3 separate regions of the Homo sapiens genome follow, and regions 1 and 2 are each linked to region 3. The links come from fine-mapping of genetic effects on gene expression. A gene starts in region 3. Each other region holds a variant in brackets. All regions are shown on one strand. Distances are from middle to middle. Region 1 overlaps FOXK2 (forkhead box K2). Region 2 overlaps FOXK2 (forkhead box K2). Region 3 holds the start of FOXK2 (forkhead box K2).

Region 1 (10,280 bases), 87 kb after region 3:
CTGCTTTGTGGCAGCCGTGCTTTCTGGAAGCTGAGCAGCTTCTTTTTTTTTTTTTTTTTTTTGAGACGGAATTTCTTTGTCCCCCAGACTGGAGTGCAATGGCACGATCTCAGTTCACTGCAGCCTCCGCCTCCTGGGTTCAAGTGATTCTCCTGCCTCAGCCTCCCGAGTAGTTGGGACTATAGGCCCCCACCACCTTGCCCGGCTAATGTTTTTGTATTTTTAGTAGAGATGGTGTTTCACCATGCTGGCCAGTTCGAGACTGGTCTTGAACTCGTAACCTCAGGTGATCCTCTCGCCTCAGCCTTCCAAAGTGCTGGGATTACAGGCGTGAGCCACCGCACCTGGCCTCTTGTTCATGTTTTATGTGTAAATTGGTCCTCTGCTATTTCTGTTGCTCAGAGGTGGAAAGGAGAAGGGAACACGATAAAGTCACACATCCACACTGTTGACAGGGGTTTGGCTTCCAGGGAACACACCTCTGTGGCCTCAGGGCTATGTCCTGAATTCTAAAACGGGGCTCTCACGGCTGACCCGATGTCACTGGGTCCCCGTTTGCTGCTTGAGTCTCTTCGGAGCCCAGTGTTGACTCCCGCTCTTCGTGGCTGCCCCGGCTATCTGGCCATGAGGAGCTGACCACGCACCTGGCCGGACTCACATCCGCTCCGCTAGGGAAGACCTGGGGGCGGAGGTCGGTCTCTGACCAGCCAGCGTCCCTGCAGGGGACTGCGAGTAGGAGGCGGGTATTGCCCACGCCAGGGCCTGTGGTCTGAGAGGGCTGGCCCTTGACGGACAGGTGGGCAAGTCCCCCTCCCACATCTCTAGGCACCAGGGCGTAGCGTACCATGTGTGCTGTGTTTGTGGTTGGGTTCAGGTACTGCCCTGTAGGCGTGTCTGCTCTGAGCCTCCTGGGACAGCCTGAAGTGGTTGCTGCACAGCTGCTTTGGGGCCTCCCAGGGGTGTGTTCCTGCTCCCACCCTGGGGTGCTCTGAGTTGGTCTTGGGTTAGAGAAGTGCAGTGGCTGGTGTGTGCGCAGCCTAGGGGCCTAGGACCTGCTTCTCAGAGCATCACGGGGCCCACCAAGAAGTGCCCCCTGGGGAGGTGACAGCGTCTTCCAGAAATGCCGCCGCCCACAAGGAGGACTGGCCTGTGCCGGAAGCTGGAGATGGTGGGGTCCTGATGGCACCTGGTAGGTGAGGGTGCCCCAGAGAAACAGAGCCAAGGCGGCGGCCTGGAGACAGATTCTGTGGAATCTGCCCACTCTGTTGTGGGGCCTGCCAAGCTCAGCATCTGCAGGGTGGACCGAACCCCGGGGAAAGAGTCAGTGCTGGATTCTCAAGAGTCCAGAGGCCATCCAGGGCAGAGTGCTCCCCTCAGAGGACCTCAGTCTTTTCTTAGTCCTTCACCTGATTGGATGAGGCCCACCCACTCATGGCGATCAGCTGATTTACTCAGAGCTGACTGATTTAAATGTTAATTTCATCTAAAGAAGTAACTATACAGAAACATCCAGATTAATGGTTGACCAAAATCTGGGCACTGTGGCTCAGCCAGGCTGGCACATAACATTACCCATCGCATGTTAGTTGGAAGCTTGGCCTTTGGAATTAACTCAGCCTGGTCAGCCGTTAGCAGCCAGCAGTCTCTGTTCTGCCCACACACCTCTGTGGACTGACCCAGGACACAGGTGAGCAGCATCCATGAGAAACTGTGGTGCTTCTCTCCTATGGGACAGATGGAGCCCCGCTCCCTTCTGTGTGGAAATGGTCCAGGAGCATCTTGTGCGGGTGGTGGGGGGGCGAGGGCAGGGCCTCCGCATGAGGGAGAGCAGCGAGCGGCAGCCACTCCTTCGCCGAGCCAGCAGGGCCATCTCCTGTCTGCCTCAACCACTACTGGACTCAGCCTTTCTCCCCCAGCAGTGACATCAAAATAGCCTATTTATAGGACATAACAAAGATGATGCCAGCTGTTAATAAAAATGTCCGCTAATCAGGCAGTTCACTTGCTGCAGTTTTTTGGGGTCCCAAGGGCCCAGCCCAGGCTCCTGTGCCCTTGGCCACCGTGGGCCAGTCCCTGGGGTCTTGTGGGAGCCTCCGCGGGCCTGGGAGTGGCAGGACCCTTAGAGGGCGAGAGTTCACATGAGAGCGTGGGGTTCTGACTCGCGAGGGTTCACGTGAGAGCGTGGGGTTCTGAGTCGCGAGGGTTCACGTGAGAGCGTGGGGTTCTGACTCCCTCGTGTCATTTCAGCCGCGGCGAGTCCTTTGCACATGTTGGCAACACACGCATCCGCATCGGCCTCCCTGCCCACAAAGCGCCACAACGGTGACCAGCCGGAGCAGCCGGAGCTGAAGCGGATCAAGACAGAAGACGGCGAGGGCATCGTCATTGCCCTGAGCGTGGACACGCCACCGGCAGCCGTAAGGGAAAAGGGTGTCCAGAACTAGCGACCGGGAGAGCTTTTCTTTAACGATATCAACTCTGTGGTGCCAAAAGGAGACGCGGCCTCCCGCCAGCACTCGGGGGTGCAGGGCCCTGTGGTTGGACTTCACCTCTCAGCACTGAAAACCCAAAACCCAGCTGGCCTTAACACTCCTTAAAGACAGAAGTCACACTTGAACAAAACCCACACACAACAAAACCTGATTTGGGAGACGGTGTCTCCACTGAGCACCTGCTGGGCTGAGCTTCTACCTACGAGTGAAACTCTGTCCTCCCGCGAGGACCAGGCATCGCTGTGTGAGGACGGCACGGCCAGCGCCTGCTGTGAGTGGGTCTCCCAAGACTAGGCCTCAGGACGCGGGGGGAGCCATCCCCGCCGCCCTCACAGGACCCACCAGGCAGCGGAGACATGTGGAATTAGAGTATTTTGAGGTGTCCTTTCTTTACAAAATAATGGGGTCTTGGGCATTTCACATCACTCCATTTCTACTGAGACTTTCAGAATCACACAGGCCCTTTCCGTGGATTTCATTTGGGGCAAAGAAACAACGTAGTTTTGTTTTTGTTTTCAGCCTATGGAATGATTTCCTTTTGTCTGTCTTGTTCAAGTTCAGACGAAGCTACTCTGGCATCTGCACATTTCCGTGTTACAGCAGCTGCCTGATGAATTTTATCCACCTCCATTTCAGCATGTGGCTCGCGTGGACAGGTGGACGGACGCTGTGGCCGCATGGAACCTTGAGAACCCAGGGACGAGCCAGTGCCGGGAAGGAACTGCCGGGACTCACCGAGCTGCACTTAACTGTTCTCTTTCTGGCTATTTTTTGTTGTTTGTTTCTTTGTGTTGACTTTGTCCCTGGCAAAATTTTCCACTCTGAGTAAAACAAGTCTCCTAAGTATTGTGTATGTTTAAAACGACAGAACCATTTCTACTTCATTTGGAAAAAGATTCAGTCTTTTATCACAGGCCCTTTTGAAACTCAGATCCCAGGTCTCTCCGTGGTATGTTTGTATTTGGGGTGTCCCTCCGGCTCTAGGCGGCCTCTGACCTGCTGTCTACTCCCCACCTTCGGTGAGCGGCCGCCATGGTGGAGCAGGGTCCGAGCCACGTCCTGCAGGGCACGTCTGG[G/T]GCATTTCCTGTTTTGTGGTAGGAAATGTCCCTGACCTTTCAGAACCGAACCCAATCCTGAGGCTGACTCCTCTACGGAAAATGAGGACAGGACGGGGGTGAGGGAATGAGAGTGGGAGGTCCCTGCACCTCCTCGCCCGGCTCCTCAGGAAGAAAACCGCTGGCCCTTCCCGAGTGTGCCGGCCGAGGGCCGAGGGCCGTGCACATGGGGAGAGGGCGTCAGCCTGATGGCTGAGCTTTTAAATGTCATCATCATAACATTATTTATTTAAATGTAGTTATTTTGGTATTTAATTTTTTTTTAGAGAGGAAAAAACCTGTATTTTCCTGGTGGGATGAAATAGGGATGAAATGGCTCAGAATGGTATATTTAGGCAATTTTAAAACATTTATTATTTACATAAAGACCAAATATGATGAATCTGTTCCGTGAATTGTGTCGGCCCTCAGCATGGGGCTGGGGCAGCGTCACTGCGGTGACGCCCATTGAAAGGTATGAAATGACTGCACACTAGCTGGATTATCACTCAGCCGTTTAAGAAATAAAAGCAAAACCATCACGTGACTGAGACCGTGTGTGTGACCGCAGCAAAGCGCAGCGTGTGGATGGATCAGAGCCCCTCGGTGCAGCTGTCTGCATCTTCCAAGCACTTTACAGATACCTTGGAATGTATATTTTTGTCTTCTTACTCAGAAGGTTTGCAGTTTGTAAAATAATCAGGATTCTGCTCTGTCCTGTGTGTGGGGTCAGCTCCCTCCACAGAGGGCTCCAGCTCTGTTGGTCACAGCTGATGGGGTTCTCTGATTGATAGGAGACGAGCTCTTGAGCTCTAAGGAACAGTGAGGTCGCCGGTGGGGAGCTTGGCTGGGACACCAAGCAAATGCATCGTATGTCCCCTTGGAGACGTTTTTATGCAGCTGTGTATGTTACTATCCAGAAGGAGTCGGGGGTAGACTTTCCCGTGTAAGCTCAGTCCATAAACTGGTTACTTCTGATCCTGGAACGTGGACTTCACATGATAGGTCTGGATCTGTTTCTGTTGGGATCACAGGTAAGGAAAATGTCCATTCAAATGGTAAAGAAGGGAGGAGGGTGTTTTTTTTTTTTTTTTTTGCCGTAGGCACCATTCTGCATCTTGAACCCAGACTGAAGTGTGCCTCTCACAGATGGAAGGTGCACACGCTCCTGTCTCCTCCTCACTCTGCCACGTTCACTTGGCTTTTTCATTGGTACCTAGGAATTTAAGAATATCGAAGCGAGAGCAGTAACAAACCATAGATGAGCAGACTCCCACACCGGGTTTTCTTGCCCGTCTTTAAGGCACTGTTTCTAAATTTTGAACTTAGCTCTGAATCCCCAAGAACTTGAGCACAGCAAGGGTTGCTGAGCTGCTGTCGCCGCAGCCCTGGCCCCTGGTGCTGGAGCTGCAGCACCTTTGGGAGAGGTCCTGCGTCGTCCTCAGCTGCGTCGCTGTGAACTCCCGCTCTCCACTGTGTTCCTCAGTGTCTGCTTTTCAGGAAGTCTGCTGTGACCTTTGCCCAACTTCTGAGCTCCTCAGGGACTAGGAACAATTTCAGTAGCTTTGCCCTGAACCAAACGAGAAAACAAAAGGGAACTCCCGTATGACCCACGTCACGTGGTGCACTCAGAGTGTGTGCGGCATGATCCTCGGTTGCTCCTCCTCTCACTTTAGTAGAGTACGCGGTGGACAGCTGATCTCCTTCAGTCGTCTACCCACTTCCGTCATTGTCCTCCGCTAGAATAACAGAGTAGTTGGTAGTCATGGCCAGAAGGGGGGTGGGGGCAGTGTGAGGACTTGGGGTTTCTGTGCTGTGTGACACAAGGAGATAAGTGACAATCTTGAAGTCCTAACTTCCACTATTCTAGAAAGTATAGTGGTGATTTGTGTGCAAAGATTTGAAGTTTTAAAAAAGTACCAAGTTCCTGAAATTCAATAAAATATTTTTATTAATTTTAATGGAATGCAGAGTATCATTTTCATTTTGATTGACTGACTTTTTACTTCATGCTCTCTTCTGAGCACACCGGAGGCCTAGCGCATTGGCAAGAACTTAACCAGGGAGCTGCACTGAGGACCAGCACTGCAGGCCCTGCCAGTGGGACAGCGGGTTGAGCGTGCAGGTAGAAAAGGCGCCGTGTCACAGGCAGTGGTAACAGGGTCTTGATTGATTGATCTATGATGTCGGAGTTTTAAAGTTACTTGGAGATTGTGGCTGCCACTATTTCTTCTGCAGACTTTCTCTCCAACCTGAGAATGAAGATCACTGCAAAGCATCTTGAGGGACATTTTCTCAGAAAATGAAAAAGCAGCTCTTGGCCGGCGCGGTGGCTCATGCCTGTCATCCCAGCACTTTGGGAGGCCGAGACGGGCAGATCATGAGGTCAGGAGATTGAGAACATCCTGGCTAACATGGTGAAATCCCATCTCTACTAAAAATACAAAAAAAATTAGCCGGGCGCAGTGGCGGGCGCTTGTAGTCCCAGCTACTCGGGAGGCTGAGGCAGGAGAATGGCGTGAACCTGGGAGGTGGAGTTTGCAGTGAGCCGAGATTGCGCCACTGCACTCCAGCCTGGGCGGCAGAGCGAGACTCCGTCTCAGAAAAAAAGAAAAAGCAGCTCTTCTGAAGAGGTACTTGGGTATTCAAGTTCCCACACAGGAACACTTTGATCTTCAGGCCCTGAAAATCTGGTGTGGATCGCTAATGTCTGGAATCGTGATGACATTATCAGTACTCACCCCAGGGTAGCAGAGGGAAGAAACCGTGCTGAAAATGACACAGAGGCCTTTGGGAGCTAAATGATGTTCACGGACAGAGAGTTCATAACGGAGTGTTTGTTTTATTCCTTACACTGATCCCCTAATTTAAAACAGTTCATACTGGCATAAAAGAACTGTTTATCACGCCCTGCGAGACTGCCTCTTCCAGCAAAGTGAAGCAGTCATTTGTAATTTGTTTCTGCCAGGTCTGCGTCTGCAGTGCACCCGGGCTGCGTTGATGGGTGCTGGGAAATTGTCACTGTTTGTTGCCCCCTTTCTGAGCTATGTCCACAGCAACACAAAATTACAATTCAGAGTGGGTCTCAAGTGACCTCTGATGACTAAACTGGCTACAAAGATTCCAGTGGACTCCTCCACCTGTGTCTCCTAGGGGTTATGACTAACTGTGGACCTAACAAACAGAGCAACTATCTCAGTCCTATGGAAAGTCAGTCGTATATAATACAGAACAGCAGGCAGACTAGAGCCAGAACAAGGACCGGTGTGATGGGTTTTTCCTGGGTTTTCCCCTCCCATTGCTGAGCCTAGTCCGTTGCTGGGCCTAGTCGGGGGCGGTCTATCCGAACTGCACATTAGGGATGAACATTAAAATCTCCAAGAGAAGCCCGCTTCCCTCTCATCCTGGGCAGAGACGGTCGTGGGAAACTCCTGCAAGCAGCAGCCCTGCAGACACTGGCGACTCCCACAGAGCCCTTCACGCTGGCGACTCCCACAGAACCCTTCACGCTGACGAGAGGAATTGGAAAACAGGCCCCTGTAGTCCAAAGAGCATGAGGGAAATCCCTGCTCCACTTTGGCCCCAAGCTGGACCTAGTCATAGGAATGGGAACAGCACAGAGAGGCTGAAACCTGGGCTTTTAAGTCAAAGGACACAGCAGAGGAGTTAAGAGACCCCCTAAAGCTCCACATGAATGGCACTGACGTGGGGAAAACAGCAAAGGCTATTTGAGCTCAACTCCTGTGTAGACTGGCCCCTGGGTGAACAGCACGACACAGACTTGGAAGACTAGCCTGACACCAGAGTCACAGCTCCAGGAGGCAGGCTGGCACATGCAATCAGAACATAACTGGGTTACTTGCCTGCTGAGACACAACTCAGCATCCTGCAGAGGGTTTCATGGACTTGGGAGTCTCAAGGTATGCCGAATGTCTAGAATACAAAATTACTAAACGTAAAAAGAGCCAGAAAAATCTCTGCCCTAAAGTGAAAAGACCGAATGCCAACTCTCACATGACCCAAATATTGGGAATATCAGATAAAGAACAGTTATTATAACCATGCTCTGTGAAATAAGGGCAAATGCTCTTGAATCAAAGAAATGAAAAAATTCAGTGAATAAACAGAAAAACATTTGGAAACAAAAATGAACTGGGACTTGTAGGACAAGATTGAAGGGTCTACTGTGTATGTCACTAGATTCCTATAAAACAGAGAAACAACGTATACAATTTTTTTTAAAGAAATATTTTAGTCCGGGTGGGCGCGGTGGCTCATGACTGTAATCCCAGCACTTTGGGCGGCCGAGGTGGGTGGATCACGAGGTCAGGAGATCAAGACCAGCCCGGCCTACATGGTGAAACCGCATCTCTACTAAAAATACAAAAATTAGCCGGGCATGGTGGCACACACCTGTAATCTCAGCTACTCGGGAGACTGAGGCAGGAGAATCGCTTGAGCCCAGGAGGCGGAGGTTGCAGTGAGCGCAGATTGCGCCACTGCACTCCAGCCTGGGCGACAGCGAGACTGTCTCATTTAAAAAAAAAAATACATATATATATATTTTTTTAATTTATTTTTATTTATTTATTTTTTTGAGACGGAGTCTCGCTCTGTTGCCCAGGCTGGAGTGCAGTGGCACGATCTCGGCTCACTGCAAGCTCTGCCTCCCAGGTTCAAGCGATTCTCCTGCCTCAGCCTCCGGAGTAGCTGGGACTACAGGCACCCACCACCACGCCCGGCTAATTTTTTGTATTTTTAGTAGAGACGGGGTTTCACCGTCTTAGCCAGGATGGTCTTGATCTCCTGACCTCATGATCCGCCCGCCTCGGCCTCCCCAAGTGCTGTGATTACAGGCGTGAGCCACCGCGCCTGGCCTATATATGTGTGTGTGTGTATATATATATATATATATTTTTTTTTTTTTTTTAATAAATACTTTAAAGATTCACGAAGGTGAGTGAATTCCAATAAGATCATCTCAAGGAAAACCATGTTGAGGCAATAAACTAAAGAAAAGACATTTTTTTTTTAACCTGGAAAGCAGCCAAAGAAAACTGACTTATCCAGGTTGAGTATTCCTAATCTGAAAACTCAGTAATCTAAAATCCGAAACTTTGAGTGTTGACACGATGCTCAAAGGAAATATTCATTGGAGCATTTTGGACTTCAAATTTTTGAATTAGGAATGCAGGGCGGGGCACAGTGTCTCATCCCAACACTTTGGGGGGTCGAAGTGGGAGGCTCACTTGAGCCCAGGAGTTGGAGACCAGCCTAGGCAACTTGGCAAAATCCTGTCTCTACTAAAAATAAACCAAGTGTGGTGGTGTGCACCTGTAGTCCCAGCCACTCAGGAGGCCCAGGCGGGAGGATCGCCTGAACCCAGGAAGCTGAAACTGGACTGAGCCGTGACTGCACCACCACACTCCAGCTTGGGCAATGGGAGTGAGACCTTGTCTCAAAAAACAGACAAACAAGGATGCTGAAATGGAAAGTACACTGCAAATATTCAAAAATAAAGATTAAAAAAATTGCATTCTGAGGCCGGGCGCAGTGGCTCACGCCCGTAATCCCAGCACTTGGGGAGGCCGAGGTGGGCAGATCACGAGGTCAGGAGATCGAGACCATCCTGGCTAACACGGTGAAACCCCGTCTCTACTAAAAATACAAAAAATTAGCCGGGCGTGGTGGCGGGTGCCTGTAGTCCCAGCTACTTGGGAGGCTGAGGCAGGAGAATGGCGTGAACCCGGGAGGCGTAGCTTGCAGTGAGCTGAGATCGCACCACTGCACTCCAGCCTGGGTGACAGAGCGAGACTCCGTCTCAAAAACAACAACAACAAAGTAAATGTAAAGCAAGCAGGCAACAAAATTGAAAAAAGAAATCAAAATTGAGGGGAAAAAATAAAACTTTTTTTTATTTGTAGAGACGGGTCTTGCTATGTTGCCCAGGATGGTCTCGAACTCCTGGACTCAAGCTATTCTCCTGCCTTGGCCTCCCAAAGTACTGGGATTACAAGCATGAGCCACCATGCTTGGCCACTTCTAATTAAAAAAAAAAAAAAAAAAATAGAAAACAGGCTGGGTGTGGTGGCTCACGCCTGAAATCCCAGCACTTTCGGAGGCCAAGGTGGGTGGATTACCTGAGGTCAGGAGTTGAAGACCAGCCTGGCCAAGAAGGTGAAACCCCATCTCTACCAAAAATACAAAAACTAGCCAGGTGTGATGGCACGCATCTGTGATCCCAGCTACTCAGGAGGCTGAGGCAGGAGAATCACTTTGAAGCCAGGAGGCAGAGGTTGCAGTGAGCCGAGACCTCGCCATTGCACTCCAGCCTGGGTGACAAGAGTGAAACTCTGTCTCAAAACAGAACAGAACGAAACACACAAAGGAATAAGAACAATGAGCCATTCATGAGGTTGGGGCAGGGGACATAGTGACAGAAACCATCCTTGAAGAAGCCTGGAAATTGGACTTACTAGACAAACACTTTGTCTTAAATATGCTCAAGGGGCTGAAGGGAACCAGGACAAAGAAGTAAAATAAGAACAAAGCCAGGTGTGGTGGCTCACGCCTACAGTCTCAGCACTTTGGGAGGCTAAAATGGGGAGACAGCTTGAGCCCAAGAGCTCAAGACCAGGCTGGGCAACATAGTGGGACTCTGTCTCTACCAAAAAAAAAAAAAAATCAGCTAGGC
Region 2 (8,000 bases), 76 kb after region 3:
ATACTTTAGGCTTAAATGTCATTTATTAGTCATATCTTTTCTCTGCAGCAATAAAATATAGATATAAATATTAAAGTTTGTCTATGAGTAACAAAATTGATAAAACCCAAAAATATAACAAATTCTTATAAAACCAAAAATTAAAATGTTACTGAAGATGCCTTTCTTAGTGTATTTAGCTTTAAAGGAAACCACCTGATTCGTTCTGTATTCACTGATGGTTGCACAGTCCTAGTGTCAACACTGAGGGCCTGTTTCCACTCAGGAAGGAGAGGACAGTGTCAGCACTGAGGGCCTGTTTCCACTCAGGAAGGAGAGGACAGTGTCAGCACTGAGGGCCTGTTTCCACTCAGGAAGGAGAGGACAGTGTCAGCACTGAGGGCCTGTTTCCAGATGAACGTGAAAGTCTGTCAGTGATCTTGGCTGGGTGTGGTGGCTCACGCCTGTAATCCCAGCACTTTGGGAGGTGGAGGTGGGCGGATCACTTGAGATCAGGAGTTGGAGACCAGCCTGGCCAACATGGTGAAACTCCGTCTCTACTAAAACTACAAAGATTAGCCGGGTGTGGTGGCACATTCCTGTAATCCCTGCTACTCTGGACGCTGAGGCAGGAGAATCGCTTGAACCTGGGAGATGGAGGTTGCAGTGAGCCGAGTTCAGACCACTGCACTCCAGCCTGGGCAACACAGCGAGACTCCATCTCAAAAAAAAAAAAAAGTCTTGTCAGCACCAGTATTTCCTATTATTGCTTTCATGCTCCATCCCATAGTTTTCATCCCCAAAGCCAGTGCCCAGTTGAGCAGATGAGAGAGGCTGTTCAGAGAGAGGAGGTGGCAGATGGGCTTTAAGAAAAGACTTCAGGACCAAGAGGAGATTCTGGAAATGATTTTCCTTAAAACAGTGTCGGCTACAGCCTGGATGCTGAACACCTAGGATGAGAACCACTGCACAGGTGCTCATAATTTTGGCCTCTTGTAGTCTTTTATTTTTTATTTGGGAGGTAGTGTCTCACCATGTTGCCCATGCTGGTCTCAAGCTCCGGGGCTCAAGCAGTCTGCCCACCTCGGCCTCCCAACGTGCTGAGATGACAGGGTGAGCCACCGCCTCTGGCCAGCACGTCTTTTCATGTACTTTATGGTTATTTGTGTATCTTCTTTGAAGAAATTTTTTTTAAGTCCTTTGCCCATCATTTAATTGGGTTGTCTTTTTGTTGTGAAATTTGTAGTTCTTTATTCATATGTAGAGATTTCAGGCCTTTTCAGACATGTAGGTGTAACTCAGAGACATTGCAGGGTTGGTTCCAGACCACTGCAAAAAAATGAATATTGCAGTAGAGCTGCCAGTCACATGAAATTTTTGGGTTCCTACTATATTAAGCAATTATGTTTATACTAAATTGTAGTGTAGTGTATTACCCCAAGGAAAATGTAGTATTTTTACTGAGGAATTATGTGGATGTGGCCGAGTTTTCTGACCCAAGCATGGGGTTAGAATGTCCTGTGCAGGGAGGGACTGCACAGGCTGCCTGAGACTCTCCCAGGGGTACCAGAGGGCTCAGCACCACGAGCAGATAGGCCGAGGCTGGGCTGCCTGCCCTAAGGGGGTTCCATCCTCACCCTGGCCCCAAGGGCAGCCTGGGCCGGTTCTGCCTCTGCCACCAGCTGCTGTGGGACCCGGGGCTCAGGGCTTGGCCCCTGCGTGTGTCGTGAAGACAGTGCTGACAGATGGGAGGTGGGGCTGACAGGACGAGGGGTCAGGATGTTCCGGCCATGCACTGTAGCCCTGGCCTTGCAGGACAGCAGGTGGCTTGGTGGGATGATAGGTGAGTTCCGTGGGCAGGCGCAGGGCATGAGCTGCCAGTGTCTTCCTGGAAGGTGACTCTGGGGTTGTCGCTCCAGCTGGAGTGTACCCTCATTCCTGCTTCCATAGGGGTCTCCATGGAGGCCTCATTCAAACACAGGCGAGCCCATCCCTGGCCTGTCAGGTTCACCAGGGTGGCCCCTGGTCCCGTTGTCGCCGTTGTCCACACCCTGCCCACCTGCCAATGCTCCTGTGTCCCCTGCTCTGCTCCAGGGCCCCAAACCCTGTGCAGAGCTGGGGTGCATCATGCTGCCGCCCCATGGAGAAGGCCTGGAGGAGATGGAAGCCGGGAGGCTTCCTCTTACAGGAAGGGAAGCCCCAGAAATGTGCCTGGCACCAAGAAACTGCTCCAAGCTTGTTCCAGAGTGTGGGGAGGGCTTGAGGCCTCCCCTTTTTGAGTACATGGAAAGGAAAGCCTGGCATTTTCTGGAAACGCTCCCAAGTCTCCCTGGCAGGGAGATGTGGGAAGAGTCCAGGCGCCCAAGCTCTTGCATATTCACTTCCTCCCATCACACGTGCTGTGTACAAGCACCCTCAGAGCTCGCTTTGGGAGACCCCTGCCTCAGGGCTGCGGGTGCCGCCGTCCACACCACAGGCCCTTCTGCTTCCTGTTTCCAAAGCTCATCTCCTGTCTCTGGGCTGCAGGCGCTGTTTCTGGTTTACTGGCACAACTGTGGTTGTGTTTTTGTCAATGACTTCATCTTTGCTGCTGTTGTTTTGAGATACTGTCTTGCTCTGTCACCCAGGCTGGAGTGCAGTGCCGAGATCTCAACTCACTGCAGCCCCGACCTACTGGTCTCAAGCCATCCTCCTGCCTCAGCCTCCCAAGTAGCTGGGACTACAGGTGTGCAGCACCACATCCAGCTAAGTTTTTGTATTTTTTGTAGAGACAGGGTCTCACTATGTTGCCCAGGCTGGTTTCAAACTCCTGGACTCTGGTGATCCTCTAGCCTTGGCCTCCCAAAGTGCTGGGATTACAGGTACGAGCCAGCATACCCAGCCAGTGTTGTCGTTTTGATTTGGGAGTTCGGGGCTGAGCTGTGTTTGGCCAGGGCCTCGCCTGCTCAGTGTGCTCCTGGGCTGAGCTGCGGTCCTGGAGCATCTCTTGGCTCACATATTGACTCCTCCGGCCTCTCTACTGTCCTGGTCCTTCATGGGGCTCACATGTGTGTCCTCTTGTTTTCTTTCTGTCACCTTCTTAAGGGTTCACAGATCACTGTCAGTGGAAGGTGTTGCCACAGCTCAAGCCTCACAGTGGAGGAACCTCATGAGGCCCTTCACGGGGCCACTCCCTGTCTGGACAGGCCTGCCTGACCAGCCCTGCTGGGAAGCCTGGGCTTTGCTGCTGCTTCACCCTGCGACATTCTCCTCAGGCCCTGCCTTTCGCTTCTTTCGTTAACATTGTTCCTGCCTTGATCGTTTGCTCCCTCCTGCCTAACTCTGCTCTTCTTCCTTGTGTAGCAGTTACGTGGTCCTCAAATATCATTTGTTGACTCCAGTGTTTCCTGGGGCATCTCCTCAAGCTGGCTGGGGTTCTCTGCATCTCAGCTGTGGCGCCTGGTGTGAGGGCGCACGCTTCGCAGTGAGAGTGAAATGCCCAGTTCGCGCTGGCAGAGGGAGACCCTGTGAAGGTCTCCCTGTGCCAGGCACAGGCTCTTATTCTGAAAGCAGACCCCGTGAAGGTCTCCCTGTGCCGGGCACAGGCTCTTATTCTGAAAGTAGACCCTGTGAAGGTCTCCCTGCGCCGGGCACAGGCTCTTATTCTGAAAGCAGACCCAGTGAAGGTCTCCCTGTACCGGGCAGAGGCTCTTATTCTGAAAGCAGACCCCGTGAAGGTCTTCCTGTACCGGGCACAGGCTCTTATTCTGAAAGACCCAGTGAAGGTCTCCCTGCGCCGGGCACAGGCTCTTATTCTGAAAGCAGACCCCGTGAAGGTCTCCCTGCACCGGGCACAGGCTCTTATTCTGAAAGCAGACCCAGTGAAGGTCTCCCTGTGCCAGGCAGAGGCTCTTATTCTGAAAGCAGACCCAGTGAAGGTCTCCCTGTGCCAGGCAGAGGCTCTTATTCTGAAAGCAGACCCTGTGAAGGTCTCCCTGTACCGGGCACAGGCTCTTATTCTGAAAGGGTACGCAGCAGTTTCTGGAAGGAAGGAAGGAGGGAGGGAGGGAGGGAGGGAAAGAGGAAGGAAGGAAAGGAGAGCGATAGGCACAGAGGAAGGTAGATGAAGCCCCGCGCCCCCCTGGCGGAGCCCAGCCCTGTTCACCGCGTGCTGTGCGGGTGCCTGTGCCAGGATCAGCTGGCTGGACGGCTATAGCCCCACGCCTGCAGGCCACATACCTGGGAGAGTGTGGGCCTTCCGAGCCTTCTGGCTCCCGGCCCCACAGAGGAATTACGGTCCCATGTCCCTCACAAGGACCCTTGCAGAGGGAGCAGTGCATCGGCACAGAGCAGGACACAGGGGAGCCGGGCTGAGGCTGCGGGTCCCTTGTGGCCGCCAGGTGCTCACGCGTGC[C/T]TCGGTGGGGATCTGGCAGCCAGATTTGGGGTGAGGATTTGATGATGTGGGTATCCCTAGCTGGTCCCACAGTGACGATGGGTGTTGCGTTGTGAGCATGTAAAACGGCAGTGACGTCTGAGGGTCCCTGGACGTCTTTCACACCCAGCCTCAAAGCGGAGCCTTTCCAGGCAGAGCAGCAGCTGCCGCCACTGGATTGACAGCCCCAGAGCAGCGGGATCAGGCCACGCGGACGAGGAGGTGCGAGGCCTCGGGTCGGGGCCTGTGTTCTGCGGGAGCCGCACCCATCATCGCTGTGGCGGTGGCAGTGGAGCAGCTGCTCTCGTGTCTGAGCTGCTCCGGCGTCTCTGTCCACAGTATAGGGTCTTCTGATGCTTCCTGGAGGTCTCGGAGGGGCTTGCTGCGTGTAGTACCCACACAGCCCACAACTGGGGTGTTGTCAAGTGTTATGACGTAGGTTGCCTGTGGAGTAAAAGTTGGCCGCTAAGAAATGCTCTAGACAGGCCGGGCACGGCGGCTCACACCTGTCATCCCAGCACTTTGGGAGGCCGAGGCGGGCGGATCACGAGGTCAGGAGATTGAGACCATCCTGGCTAACACGGTGAAACCCTGTCTCCACCAAAAATACAAAAAATTAGCTGGACATGGTGGCGGGCGCCTGTAGTCCCAGCTATTCGGGAGGCTGAGGCAGGAGAATGGCATGAACCCGGGAGGTGGAGCTTGCAGTGAGCTGAGATCGCGCCACTGCACTCCCGCCTGGGCGACAGAGCGAGACTGTCTCAAAAAAAAAAAAAAAAAAAATGCTCCAGACACTTCAGTTTGAAAATATTGGAATTTATGTGGGGAGGATTAGTGTGCATGGAAGGCCAAAAATGTGAATGCATCTCCGCAGTCATCTTTCCAAAAGCCGCCCTCTGAATCAGTGAGGACCCTCAGGGTGGGGAACGTCCCCTTGTGAGTGTCTGCAGATTGGAGTAGGCAGCAGCGGAGCCCGTCTCTGTAGATGGACTCGCAGAGGAACTTAGTTCTTTCCCTAAAGGAGTAGGAACAGCTGGGCGCCGTGGCTCACGCCTGCAATCCCAGCACTTTGGAAGACCAGGGTGGGCAGACTGCTTGTGCCCAGGAGTTCAAGACCAGCCTGGACAACATGGTGAATCTCTGTGTCTACAAAAAATCACAAAAGTGGCTGTGGCGGCAGCACCTGTAGTCCCAGCCACCAAGAGGCTAAGGCAGGGAGATCGTTTGAGCCAGGGAGGTTGAGGCTGCAGTGAACCGTGATCGCCCCACTGCACTCCATCCTGGGAGACAGGGTGAGACCCTCTCCACATAGTAAGTAAATGGAGGAATAGAAACGCAAGCCGGCATACATTGTCTTTGACAGCATTTTGTGGATAGGCAAGTTCTAACCATGGGGGCAACGTGGGATGCAGCAGGGTTTGGTGTGCCGTGGGGCAGGGGTAATTTGCTTGTTTCTCTAAGACTTTGTACAGCTCTGTAAACAGATTCCCATTAGGTCGTCCTTTCCTTGTGACAGGTAATAGTGGAGGTGTCACAAGGTAAGTGGCCTGTCTTGCCTGGTTTTCAGGTTCTACGGCTTTTGTCTTGTTTTTTGAGAAAGGGTCTGTCACTCAGACTGGAGTGCAGTGGCGTGATCACAGCTCAGTGCAGCCTTGAACTCGTGGGCTCAAGTGATTCTCCTGCCTCAGCCTCCTGAGTAGCCAGGACTACAGGCACGTACAAACATGTCCAGCTAATATTTTTTTTCTTTTGTAGAGATGGGGTCTTACCGTGCTGCTCAGGCTGGTCTCAAACTCCTAGGTTCAAGTGATTCTCTCGCCTCTGCCTCCCCAAATGCTGGGACTACAGGTGTGAGCCACCGCGCCCAGCCTTCTCCTTGTGTTTGAACTGGAGAGGACAGAGTGCTATACATGTGGTCACGGTTTTTCTTCGTTGAAAGCTCTAACAGTGGGGTCGGTCCCTGTTATTAAGCCTGTGTCACTATTCCCTGGGCCCTAAAAGTGCACCTGGCTCCTGTGACTTGGGGTCCTTTCCCACTCCTCTCCCCAGGGCCCCTTGGCCTCAGAAGGCCCCCATGTGCCAGCTCAGACTGGAGTTGCCTCAGTTGACACAGCAGGCCCCATCCAGACAGACCAGCAGGTGCTTCTGGAGACAAGAGCAAAGCCTTTTCCGGCAGCCCGGAACCTGGGATGAGAAACGACAGGTGGAAGGTTGTCCAGAGACACCTACAGCGTGGATGCTGTTCCGAGTCAGCGTAGGAGAAAGGCCACTGGAAACCAGAGTCACACTGCGCGTCTGTGCATCTCTGGCCTACCGCAGTGGCCCCGGCTGTCTGCACATTTTTTGTAGACACATTAGAGTCGGTTGAGGCCACACCTGCGGCCACAGACTGCGACCGCGATTGCAGGGAGGAGCATCTGAGGTGGTCACGGGGTTTGCCCAGCTCACACCAACTGCAGGTCAGTTCCTGCTTCGCCTTCAGTAGCCTGAGTCCCTTCTTCTTTTTCTTTCACGTTACTAGGGCAGTTGTTCGCTGACGCCTTAATTCTGGAACACGTTCCTTGCCCAGATTCTTGGTGGCTGCTTGTTCCCTTCTCATCGTTCCTGCTGTGTTTTCCATGCTTGGTGTAGGGGGACCCTCAGAGCTTGGTGTAGGGGGAGCCTCAGAGCTTGGTGTAGGGGGAGCCTCAGAGCTTGGTGTAGGGGGAGCCTCAGAGGTGGCGTCAGGACGTGCCTGCCCCACCGGTTGCCCTGGTGCCCTCGTCACGCCCCGGGACCGCGCACACGTGGGGACTGTTTCCAGACGCACTTTCTGCGGGCAGTCTGTGTGGCAGGGCTCCCTGCCCAGCTCCTGCAGCCTCATCAAGTCTCCCACTAAGGAGGTGTCGCTCCTCCAACTTTGTTCTTTTTAAAAATCGCTTCAGCCATTCTAGGTCCTTGGCATTTCCGCGTGAACTGTAGGATTCCTACACCAAGCCTGCTGGCGTCTTGATTGGGACGGTGTTGAATCCAGAGTGTGTGGCAGAGCTGGCGGAGCCCCTCTTTCTTTGATCTCTGCCGATCTCCTTGATTTCACGTTTGTTTTATTCCACAGACCACCCCCTCCCCATCTTCTCACCTACTTCAGGTTCCATTTCATGGTAGGAAATTCCTGTAGTCCTCCCGGGCTTGCTGAAGTGCTGCTCCAAGTTACAGTCCCCGGGTTGTCAGGCGTGGCGAGAGCCCCTTGTGCTCAGAGCTCTCACGGAACACAGAGCAAGCCTGTCTACGAGTTCAGCCGGTGAGGGGCAGGGGCTGGTGAAGGCGGCGGCGCCTCTGGGTGTGCCCAGGGGCAGGGTCGCCTCCAGGCCCCACGCGCTAAGCCGTGACTCCCTGTAACACACCCGTGTCGACACAGGTCACGTGGGCCCGAGGTGCTCATACATCACACTCCTTGTCCAGGATGGTCCTTCCTGGCACCATGTGGTCCTCGGTGCAAACCAGAGTTTGCAGTGCTCGCTGCACAGACCCTTCTGCCTTATTCAGCATCTTTAGATCAACAGAGTCAGTGCCTTCCCAAGAGAGCACGTGTGGGCCTCATCAGGAGCATGTGCCCAACTCGTGTGTGTGT
Region 3 (10,436 bases):
GTGGCTCATGCCTGTAATCCCAGCACTTTGGGAGGCTAAGGTGGAAGGATCACTCTAGACCAGCTTGGGCAACATAGTGAGACCTCGTCCCTATAAAAAATAAAAAATAGGCCAGGTGTAGTGGCTCACGTCTGTAATCCCAGCACTTTGGGAGGCCGAGGCGAGCGGATCACGAGGTCAGGATATTGAGACCATCCTGGCTAACATGGTGAAACCCCGTCTCTACTAAAAATACAAAAAAAAAATTAGCTGGGCGTGGTGGCAGGCGCCTGTAGTCCCAGCTACGGGAGGCTGACGCAGGAGAATGGCGTGAACCCAGGAGGCAGAGCTTGCAGTCAGCCGAGTGAGCCACTGCACTCCAGCCTGGGCAACAGAGCGAGACTCTTGTCTCAAAAAAAAAATAAAAGGGCTGGGTGCGGTGGCTCATGCCTGTACTCCCAGCACTTTGGGAGGCCGAGGCGGGCAGATCACGAGGTCAGGAGTTTGAGACCAGCCTGACCAACATGGTGAAACCCTGTCTCTACTAAAAACACAAAAATTAGCCAGGCGTGGTGGCAGGTGCCTGTAATCCCAGCTACTCAGGAGGCTGAGGCAGGAGAATCGCTTGAACCTGGGAGGCGGAGGTTGCAGTGAGTCGAGATCATGCCATTGCACTCCAGCCTGGGCGACAAGAGCGAGACTCCATGATAAAAAATAAATTAAAAAACAAAAAAAGGAATAAATTATATAATAATTTCTGTTAGTATTTTTTTGAAGGCTGAATCTTCTGGTGATAATTTTCAGCTTTTGTTGATCTGAAAATTTCTTTCATTACCGTTCCTTAATTTTTTCTTTTTTCTTTTTAATAGAGACGAGGTCTCACTATGTTGCCCAGGCTGGTCTTCAACTCCTGAGCTTAGGTGATCCTCTCACCTCAGCCTCCCAAAGTGCTAGGATTACAGGAGTGAGCCACTGCACCTGGCCACCTTTCCTTAATTTTTATTTTTTTTGAGGCAGAGTTTTGCTCTTGTCGCCCAGACTAGAGTGCAGTGGCACAATCTCTGCTCACTGCAACCTCCGCCTCCCAGGTTCAAGTGATTCTCCTGCCTCAGCTTCCCAAATAGCTGGGGTTACAGGTGTGCACCACCACGCCTGGCTAATTTTTGTATTTTTAGTAGAGATGGAGTTTCACCATGTTGGGCAAGCTGGTCTCGAACTCTTGACCTCAGGTGATCCACCCACCTCGGCCTCCCAAAGTGCTGGGATTAAAGGCCACTGCGCCTAGCCAATTTTTTTTATTTTTATTTTTGAGATGGAGTTTTGCACTGTTGCCCAGGCTGGAGTTCAGTGGTGCGATCTCGGCTCACTGCAAGCTCTGCCTCCTGGGTTCACACCATTCTCCTGCCTCAGCCTCCCGAGTAGCTGGGACTACAGGCACCCACCACTACGCCCGGCTAATTTTTTTGTGTGTTTTTAGTAGAGACGGGGTTTCACCATGTTAGCCAGGATGGCCTCTATCTCCTGACCTCATGATCCACCCGCCTTGGCCTCCCAAAGTGCTGGGATTACAGGCGTAATCCCAGGCGCGCCCAGCCATGCCCAGCCAATTTTTGAAGAACATTTTTGTTAGATATTCAATTCTGATCTCAATGACTTTGTTTTACTCTTAGCATTTTACGGATGTCAGTTCTTTGTTTTCTGGCTTCCATGGCTTTCGATGAGAAGTCAGCTGTCATTCTTATTGATGCCTCCATGAATGTATTGTACCTTTTTTTTTTTCAGACGGAGTTTCCCTCTTTTTGACCAGACTGGAGTGCAATGGTGCGATCTCGGCTCACTGCAACCTCTGCCTCCCAGGTTCAAGCGATTCTCCTGTCTCAGCCTCCCAAATAGCTGGGATTACAGGCATGCACCACCAGGCCCGGCTAATTTTGTATTTTTAGTAGAGACAGGGTTTTTCCATGTTGGTCAGGCTGGTCTTGAACTCCTGACCTCAGGTGATCCACCCGCCTCGGCCTCCCAAAGTGCTGGGATTATAGGCGTGAGCCACCGCGCCCGGCCGAATGTAATGTACCTTTTAAAGTCTGCCTCTTTTTAGGACTTTTCTCATTATCGTTGGTTTTCAGCAGTTGGACTATGATATGCTTTTATGTATTTTTCTTTGACTGTATCTTTTTGGGAGTTTGCTGAGCTGTTTGGATCTGTGGGTTGGTATATTTTCACCAATGTATAAACTTCTTACATATTATCTCTTTAAATATTTCCTCTGCTCTATTTTCTTTCTCCCTACTTCTTGGCAGTCAAATTTCACATTTATTCAACCATTTGATCTTGTCCCACAGGTCTCTAATATTCATTTCTGTTTTCTTTTTTTCTCATTTTCCTTCTTTCTTTTTATCTTGGAATTTTGATTCAGATTATTTCAACCGATGTAACTTTGAGATGAAAAATCTTGTCTTCAGCTGTTTCCAGTTTGGTGTTTAGATAATTCGATAAATTCTCCATTTCATATATTTTAGCTTTTTCTTTATACTGGTGAACTTAACACTAGTAAAGTTTACACACCCCCTAATCCTAAAGCCCTTACTCCTAAGGTGTTCCCTTTCTGGGGTCTCAACTGAGTGCCCAGGTTGGACCAAGATGCTTTACCTTTGCTGCCGTGTATCCCAGTCCTGTGTCCTCTGCGATCGCTTTTCAACTCCCTTGTAACAGCAGCAATCAAAAGAGGTTCAAAAATCAGAGTTAGGTTGTTGTAATAAAACTTCCTCTCGTTCTATTTATTTCTATGTATACATTAATGAAATAACAGGGATAATATTTATATACACCTGCCTCATTATAGCAATAAGCACTTTTCATCAGTGGATACATGAGTGAATTGTCAGCGGGGAAAAGCTCCAGACATGTTATTAAAAGATATGTCTCCAATGTAATTCAATTTTTTGGTCTTAATAAAAATTTACAGGCTGGGCACGGTGGCTCACCCCTGTAATCCCAGCGCTTGAGGAGGCTGAGGCGGATGGATCGCCGGAGCTCAGGACTTCGACACCAGCATGGGCAATATTGCAAAACCCCATCTCTGAAAAAATTCAAAAATTAGCTGGGCATAGTGGTGCACACACCTGTAATCCCACCACCACGCCCGGTATATTTTTAGTACAGACAGGGTTTCTCTGTGTTGGTCAGGCTGGTCTTGAACTCCCAACCTCAGGTGATCTGCCTGCCTCGGCCTCCCAAAGTGCTGGAATTATAGGCGTGAGCCACTGCACCTGGCCCTAATTTTTGTTTTTGTTTTTGTTCTTGTTTGAGACAGAGTCTTGCTTTGTTGCCCAGGCTGGAGTGCAGTGGTGAGATCTCAGCTCACTGCAAGCTCCGCCTCCCAGGTTCACGCCATTCTCCTGCCTCAGCCTCCCAAGTAGCTGGGACTACAGGCACCTGCCACCACACCCGGCTAATTTTTTGTATTTTTAAAAGAGACAAGGTTTCACCGTGTTAGCCAGGATGACCTCGATCTCCTGACCTCATGATCCGCCCGCCTCGGCCTCCCAAAGTGCTGGGATTACAGGCGTGAACCACTGTGCCCGGCCAATTTTTGTATTTTTAGTGGAGATGGGGTTTCACCATATTGGCCAGGATGGTCTCCATCTATTGACCTTGTGATCTGCCCACCTGGGCCTCCCACAGTGCTGGGATTACAGGTGTGAGCCACCATGCCTGGCCTGCCCATCTTTTTTTGTTGTTCTTTTTTTCTTTTCTTTTTTTTTTGAGACAAAGTCTCACTCTGTCACCCAGGCTGGAGTGCGGTGGCACGATCTTGGCTCACCGCAACCACCGCCTCCTAGTTAAAGCAATTCTCCTGCCTCAGCCTCCTGAGTAGCTGGGATTACAAGCATGCGCCACCACGCCCAGCTGATTTTTTGTATTTTTAGTAGAGACAGGGTTTCACCATGTTGGGCAGGCTGGTCTTGAATTCCTGACCTTTAGTGATCCGCCTGCCTCGGCCTCCCAAAAGTGCTGAGATTACATGTGTGAGCCACCACACCCGGCCTGTTTTTTTTTTTTTTTTTTGGTTAAATGATACACTTCCTATTTATCATTTCCATAGTCATCTCAATGTCCCCTAAAATCCCTCTAATATGGCCGGGCACGGTGGCTTACACCTGTAATCCTGGCACTTTGGGAGGCCAAGGCGGGCGGATCACTGGAGGTCAGGAGTTCGAGACCAGCCTGGCCAATATGGTGAAAACCCGTCTCTACTAAAAATATAAAAATTAGCTGGGTGTGGTGGCACACGCCTGTAATCCCAGCTACTCGGGAGGCTGAGGCAGGAGAATCGCTTGAACCCAGGAGGCGGAGGTTACAGTGAGTAGAGATTGGGCCACCGCACTCCAGCCTGGGCAACAGGGTGAGACTGTCTCAAAAAAAAAAAAAAAAGGAAAAGAAAAAAAAATTCCTCTAATATATAAGTGAATATTTAATGAAACAATTTTTTCTGTCTAGGAAATCCTGCCAGAACACTTTGCACCTGTAGGAATTTGTACTATAATTACAAACACATATATGGCAATTAAGACATGTAAATGTAGGTCGGGCATGGTGGCTCACGCCTGTAATCCCAGCACTTTGGGAGGCCCAGGCAAGTGGATCACGAGGTCAATAGATCGAGACAATCCTGGCCAACAGGGTGAAACCTCGTCTACTAAAAATACAAAATTAGCCAGGCGTGGTGGTGAGCACCTGTAATCCCAGCTACTTGGGAGGCTGAGGCAGGAGAATCACTTGAACCTGGGAGGTGGAGGTTGCAGTGAGCCAAGATCGCACCATTGCACTCCAGCCTGGGCAACAAGGGCAAAACTCCACTCAAAAAAAAAAAAAAAAAAAAAAAAGACATGTAAATGTTACATTCAGAGGGACACATTAATTTCCATTTCTTTTAGAAAAAGTTTTTACACATTGAAGGAATAAAAATGCATGAACTGACCCTGATGTCTCCTGCCTGGGGCCCCCAGTTGGTGGTTCCTGTTCAGGATCTCCACTTTATCCTGCTCCGTTTAAGTCCAGTCTCAAGTCTTTCTACTCACACTAAACTCCTTTTGTACCTACATTATGATGATGATGATTATTTTCGAGACAGAGTCTGGCTTTGTCACCCAGGCTGGAATGCAGTGGTGCAATCTCCGCTTGCTTACTGCAATTTCCGCCTCCCGCGTTTAAGCGATTCTCCTGCCTCAGCCTCTCAAGTAGCTGGGATTATAGGCACGTGCCACCACACCCAGCTAATATTTGTATTTTTAGTAGATATGTGGATTCACCATGTTGGCCAGGCTGGTCTCCAACTTCTAACCTCAAGTGATCCACCCACCTCGGCCTCCCAAAGTGTTGGGATTCAGTCATGAGCCACCGTGCCAGGCCTCTGTACCTAAATTATATCATTTCTCTCTTCTAATTGTTCTTTGCTATTTAACAAGCAGCAAATAGAGGAACCCTGGGGTGTTTGCTATAACCTGTATATATAGGCTATAATAGGATCTTCTCCTCACACACCCTGCAGGAACCACCATGCTGAAAGAAGTGAGACAATTCAGGGGGCAGTCCCTCCCCAGCAGAGACTAAATTGGTACCATTTGTTGCTATTTCAGTTTTGCGAAGATGCGCGCTTGGAGCCCAAGCCATGGTTTCTAGGGCTGACACTGACTTCCCACGGAATTCTTCCTGTTTAAGAGGTTGTAGACTTTTCATGATCCTGAACCTTGAACGTCTCCACAACTGGTTAAGTACCCGTGAGATACATTTACAGGATTTTTTCTTTCTTTTCCCAATTTTTTTTTTTTTTTTTTTTTTTGAGACGGAGTCTCCTCTGTCACCCAGGCTGGAGGGCAGTGGCGTGATGTCTGCTCACCACAACCTCCGCCTCCCAGGTTCGAGCGATTCTACTGCCTCAGCCTCCCAAGTAGCTGGGACTGCAGGCACGCCCCACCATGCCTGGCTAATTTTTGTATTTTTAGTAGAGACGGGCTTTTACTATGTTGGGCAGGCTGGTCTTGAACTCCTGACCTTGTGATCCACCCGCCTCGGCTTCCCAAAGCACTGGGATTACAGGTGTGAGCCACCGCGCCCGGCCACAGGATTTTTTCTTTTTAATGTTAGGAGTTTCATTGATTAGTGAACATCTGGACTATTGATCATCTTGATTTAGATGGGATCTTGTAATTTTTTAAACGGTGGCGAAATTCTTTTTTTAAAAACTTAGTATCAGATTGGTTAAGATATTAACTATTCGTTCATGAGAGTTCATATATATATAGTTCATATATATATAGTTCATATATGTATATAGTTCATATATATAGTTCATATATATATAGTTCATATATATATAGTTCATATATATATATATAGTTCACATATATATAGTTCATATATATACATATGAGACGTAGTTTCACTCTTGTTGCCCAGACTGAAGTGCAGTGACGCGATCTCGGCTTACTGCAACCTCCACCTCCCAGGTTGAAGCAATTCTCCTGCCTCCGCCTCCCAGGTTTAAGCAATTCTCCTGCCTCAGCCTCCTGAGTAGCTAGGACTACAGGTGTGCACCACCACACCCGGCTATTTTTTTTTTTTTTTTTGTATTTTTAGTAGAGCTGGGATTTCACCATGTTGGCTAGGCTGGTCTCGAACTCCTGACCTCAGGTGATCCGCTCGCCTCGGCCTCCCAAAGTGCTGGGCTTACAGGCGTGAGCCACCGCGCCCGGCCTCGTGTATATTTTTAAACTGTGTGCTGACGACAGTTAAGTAAATGTGATTCAGAACTTCTGCGTATTTTGCAGGACAGTTTTGACACAATGACATGACTCGCTAGCCAGGAAAGATAACGACATCCAGTCCTGGAGCTGCTGGTTAAAAACGAACGTGTCACCGGGTCCCCTGGGTCTGAGGCCACGCGGCACGCGGCCCCTCCGCGATATTCCCGCACCTCGCGGGGAAAAGGCCGCTCGGCGGCCGGGCCTGGGCTCGCGGGCCGCCGCCTATCCGCACCCCGGCGTCCACGCCGGGTTGGGGGCCGCTGCGTGCCTGGCGCCCGCTGTGACCTTGGGCCTGGTCCCGCCCGCCGCGCCTAAGGCGCTGCCAGGCCGGGCTCAGACCCCCGAGCTCCCGCGCCCGCGCCAACCCCGCGCCAGCCCCGATCCCGCGCGGGCTGCCGACTGTCCGCCCCGGGTTTTCCGCGGCGCCCGGAGTCGGGACTGCGTCGGGCGTCGCCGCCGGACGTGCCGGCAGCTTGGTGCGACGTGTCTTGCCATTGGCCTGCTTCGGTAGCCCCACTGCCGTACGCCGCCCCCATTGGCCGGCGTAACCGTCCGTCAGCGAGGGGCGGGCCCGGCGTGCCGGCTCGGTGGCGCGGCCGCGCGTGCTCCCGCCCCTCGCCGCCGCTCGCTCGCTCGCCGGCCGGCGGCCTCCGCTCGGCCCCCTCCCTCAGCTCCGGTGCGCGGCGGCCGACGACCCGCGCGGCCTGGGCCTCGGCCCGCGCCACCGGCGCCCGCGCGGAGCGGCCCGGGGGCCCTCACGCAGGCCCATGGCGGCGGCCGCGGCGGCGCTCTCGGGCGCGGGCACGCCACCCGCGGGCGGCGGGGCCGGGGGCGGCGGGGCCGGGGGCGGCGGGTCCCCGCCGGGCGGCTGGGCCGTGGCGCGCCTGGAGGGCCGCGAGTTCGAGTATCTGATGAAGAAGCGCTCGGTGACCATCGGCCGCAACTCGTCGCAGGGCTCGGTGGACGTGAGCATGGGCCACTCGAGCTTCATCTCCCGGCGCCACCTCGAGATCTTCACGCCCCCGGGCGGCGGCGGCCATGGCGGGGCCGCTCCGGAGCTGCCGCCCGCGCAGCCCAGGCCCGACGCCGGCGGCGACTTCTACCTGCGCTGCTTGGGCAAGAACGGGGTATTCGTGGACGGCGTGTTCCAGAGGCGCGGGGCGCCGCCGCTGCAGCTGCCGCGCGTGTGAGTGGCCTCGGGGCGGGGCGGGCGGGGTCTGCGGCCTGCAGCGCCTGGCAGGACGGGACGGGACACGCGCCCAGGCCCGGGACCACCCACGAGCGGGGGCCCGACTCTCCCACAGCCGGGACCACCAGCGGGACCCAGGCCCCGGCTGGATCCCAACCCTCGACAGCCCCTGGCCCCGACCCCCGTCCTCCCGGTCCCCTTCCTGGCAGGTGCAGCCCCCCGTCTTTCCCCCTTCCTGGAGCCGGGGCTGCGGGCGGCTGCGCGCGCGGGTCAAGGTTTCTGGGTTCTGTGCGTGCGGGGAGTTCACGTGTGCTGTTTCTATTCTGCAGCGAGGTCGCGCTGAACAGAAATGTGAAAACGGTGTGCGGTGGGAGGAACTGCCCCGAACTAAAATCTATGTCTCTTAACCGATGAAGGGTTGTCTGTTGTCTTTTGTTGTTGTTGTTGTTCAGTCGTTTTCAGTAGTGAGCTGTTTCAAGAGTGCGGTGTTTTAAGCAGGAAGGACTCCTTTTTCCCTGCCGTGTTTTCAGTAGGCCAAATTGGAAGACGCTTCAAGCATGATGGATTTTCAATCTGTGCTCTGAACCTTAAAATTTAGGGAAAACTAGATGCTTTTCGCATAACTTCTACAAAAAGACAGTTGATTAGGAATTATTACAAGGTCATGTAGAGTGTTAAGTCAGCCTGATAGGGAACTGCCTATCCTGCTACAAAACAATTTAGCTTGGTCCTGTGGTTTTATGAAGTTATCGTTTACTCTGCTTGAAACACAAACTTGCTGTCTAGGAAATGCTAATTATTCCTCAGGGGCTCACTTCTAGATCATTGCAAGTACAGCCTTTGTCCACACAAACTGGAATTTTTTTGTTTTTTGTTTTTTGAGACGGAGGCTCACTTTGTCGCTCAGGCTGGAGTGTAGTGGCGCGATCTTGGCTCACTGCAATCTCCGCCCTTTGAGTTCAAGTGGTTCTCCTGCCCCAGCCTCCCGAGTAGCTGGGATTACAGGCGCCTGCCACCGCGCCCGGCTAATTTTTTGTATTTTTAGTAGAGACGGGGTTTCACCATCTTGGCCAGGCTGGTATTGAACTCCTGACCTCGTGATCCACCCGCCTCGGCCTCCCAAAGTGCTGGGATTACAGGCGTGAGCCACCGCGCCCGGCCTACAAATTGGAATTTTTAACGCTTTCGGTTGTTGGAGATGCTGGTAAGAGCTGTTGCTTTTCTTCTTGACTTGCGTGTTGTGTGTGTGTGCATGCGCTGTTCTGTTTCTTAGCATGGAAAGGTGCACCAGCATATTCCTTAAACTTTGGTAGTAGCATTTTAAAGAATGTTATTTTCAGGCCGGGCGCGGTGGCTCACGCCTGTAATCCCAGCACTTTGGGAGGCCGAGGCGGGTGGATCACGAGGTCAGGAGGTCGAGACCATTCTGGCTAACACGGTGAAACCCGTCTCTACTAAAAATACAAAAAAAAAAAAAAAATTAGCCGGGCGCGGTGGCGGGCGCCTGTAGTCCCAGCTACTCAGGAGGCTGAGGCAGGAGAATGTGAACCCTGGAGGTGGAGCTTGCAGCCAGCGAGATCGCACCACTGCACTCCAGCCTGGGGGACAGAGGAAGACTCCGCCTCAAAAAAAAAAAAGAAATTTTCAAATGAAAATGCTATTTATGTGTGTTTATACTGTAGACGGTATGAAATCAATGGTAGGGTCCTAATGGCTACCCTTTAATCTGACTTTTTTTTTTTTTTTTTTTTTTTTACAAAATACTGTGTCACAACAAAGGAAGTTTGCGTCTACTGTGAGGATCTTGAGTTTTTGTTTGTTTGTTTTTGATTTTGAGACACGGTCTCTGTGACCTAGCCTGGAGTGTACTGGTATGATGACAGCTCACTGCAGCCTCAAACTTCTGGGCACAAGCGATCCTCCTGCCCCAGTGCTCAGGAGTTTGAAGTTGCTGTGAGCTATGATTGCACCACTGCATTCCAGGCTGGGATTACAGGTGTGAGCTATGATCTCACCACTCCTCCCACATACCTGGCCAAGATTTTGAGTTTTTTGGAATTTTTTTTTTTTTTTCCTGAGACGGAGCCTTGCTCTGTCCCCCAGGCTGGAGTGCAGTGGCGCAATCTCGGCTCACTGCAAGCTATGCCTCCCGGGTTCACATCATTCTCCTGCCTCAGCCTCCCGAGTAGCTGAGACTACAGGCACCCGCCACTACGCCCAGCTAATTTTTTTTTGTATTTTTAGTAGAGACGGGGTTTCACCATGCTAGCCAGGATGGTCTCGATCTCCTGACCTCATGATCTGCCCGCCTCGGCCTCCCAAAGTGCTGCGATTACAGGCATGAGCCACTGTGCCTGGCCCGATTTTGAGTTTTTAAAGAAAATTCTCCTCACCATTCAGCCAGAACGATTTGTATTGAATTGAATTCTGCACATGCTAACATGATAAACATGGAGATAAGT

The links.
Region 1: its variant is fine-mapped to the expression of FOXK2 in whole blood (TOPMed, PIP 0.97).
Region 2: its variant is fine-mapped to the expression of FOXK2 in whole blood (TOPMed, PIP 0.94).

Annotation. Positions count from the first base shown.
Region 1 is chr17:82,599,056-82,609,335 of GRCh38, forward strand. FOXK2 (forkhead box K2) reads left to right here. Exons shown (of 9, transcript NM_004514.4): 9 at 2,248-5,547. The coding sequence ends at 2,444. Among named protein-coding and RNA genes, the nearest start is that of FOXK2-AS1, 16 kb to the left of the region's middle. RefSeq lists an enhancer at 937-1,186 and a silencer at 3,967-4,076. The variant G/T (reference allele first, on the strand shown) is at 3,569.
Region 2 is chr17:82,589,343-82,597,342 of GRCh38, forward strand. All of the region lies in intron 8 of FOXK2 (forkhead box K2), which reads left to right. Among named protein-coding and RNA genes, the nearest start is that of FOXK2-AS1, 4.9 kb to the left of the region's middle. RefSeq lists silencers at 2,451-2,745, 3,858-4,058. The variant C/T (reference allele first, on the strand shown) is at 4,373.
Region 3 is chr17:82,512,337-82,522,772 of GRCh38, forward strand. It overlaps FOXK2 (forkhead box K2), which reads left to right and starts at 7,396. Exons shown (of 9, transcript NM_004514.4): 1 at 7,396-7,971. The coding sequence starts at 7,553. RefSeq lists silencers at 6,816-7,475, 7,926-8,105, 8,186-8,235.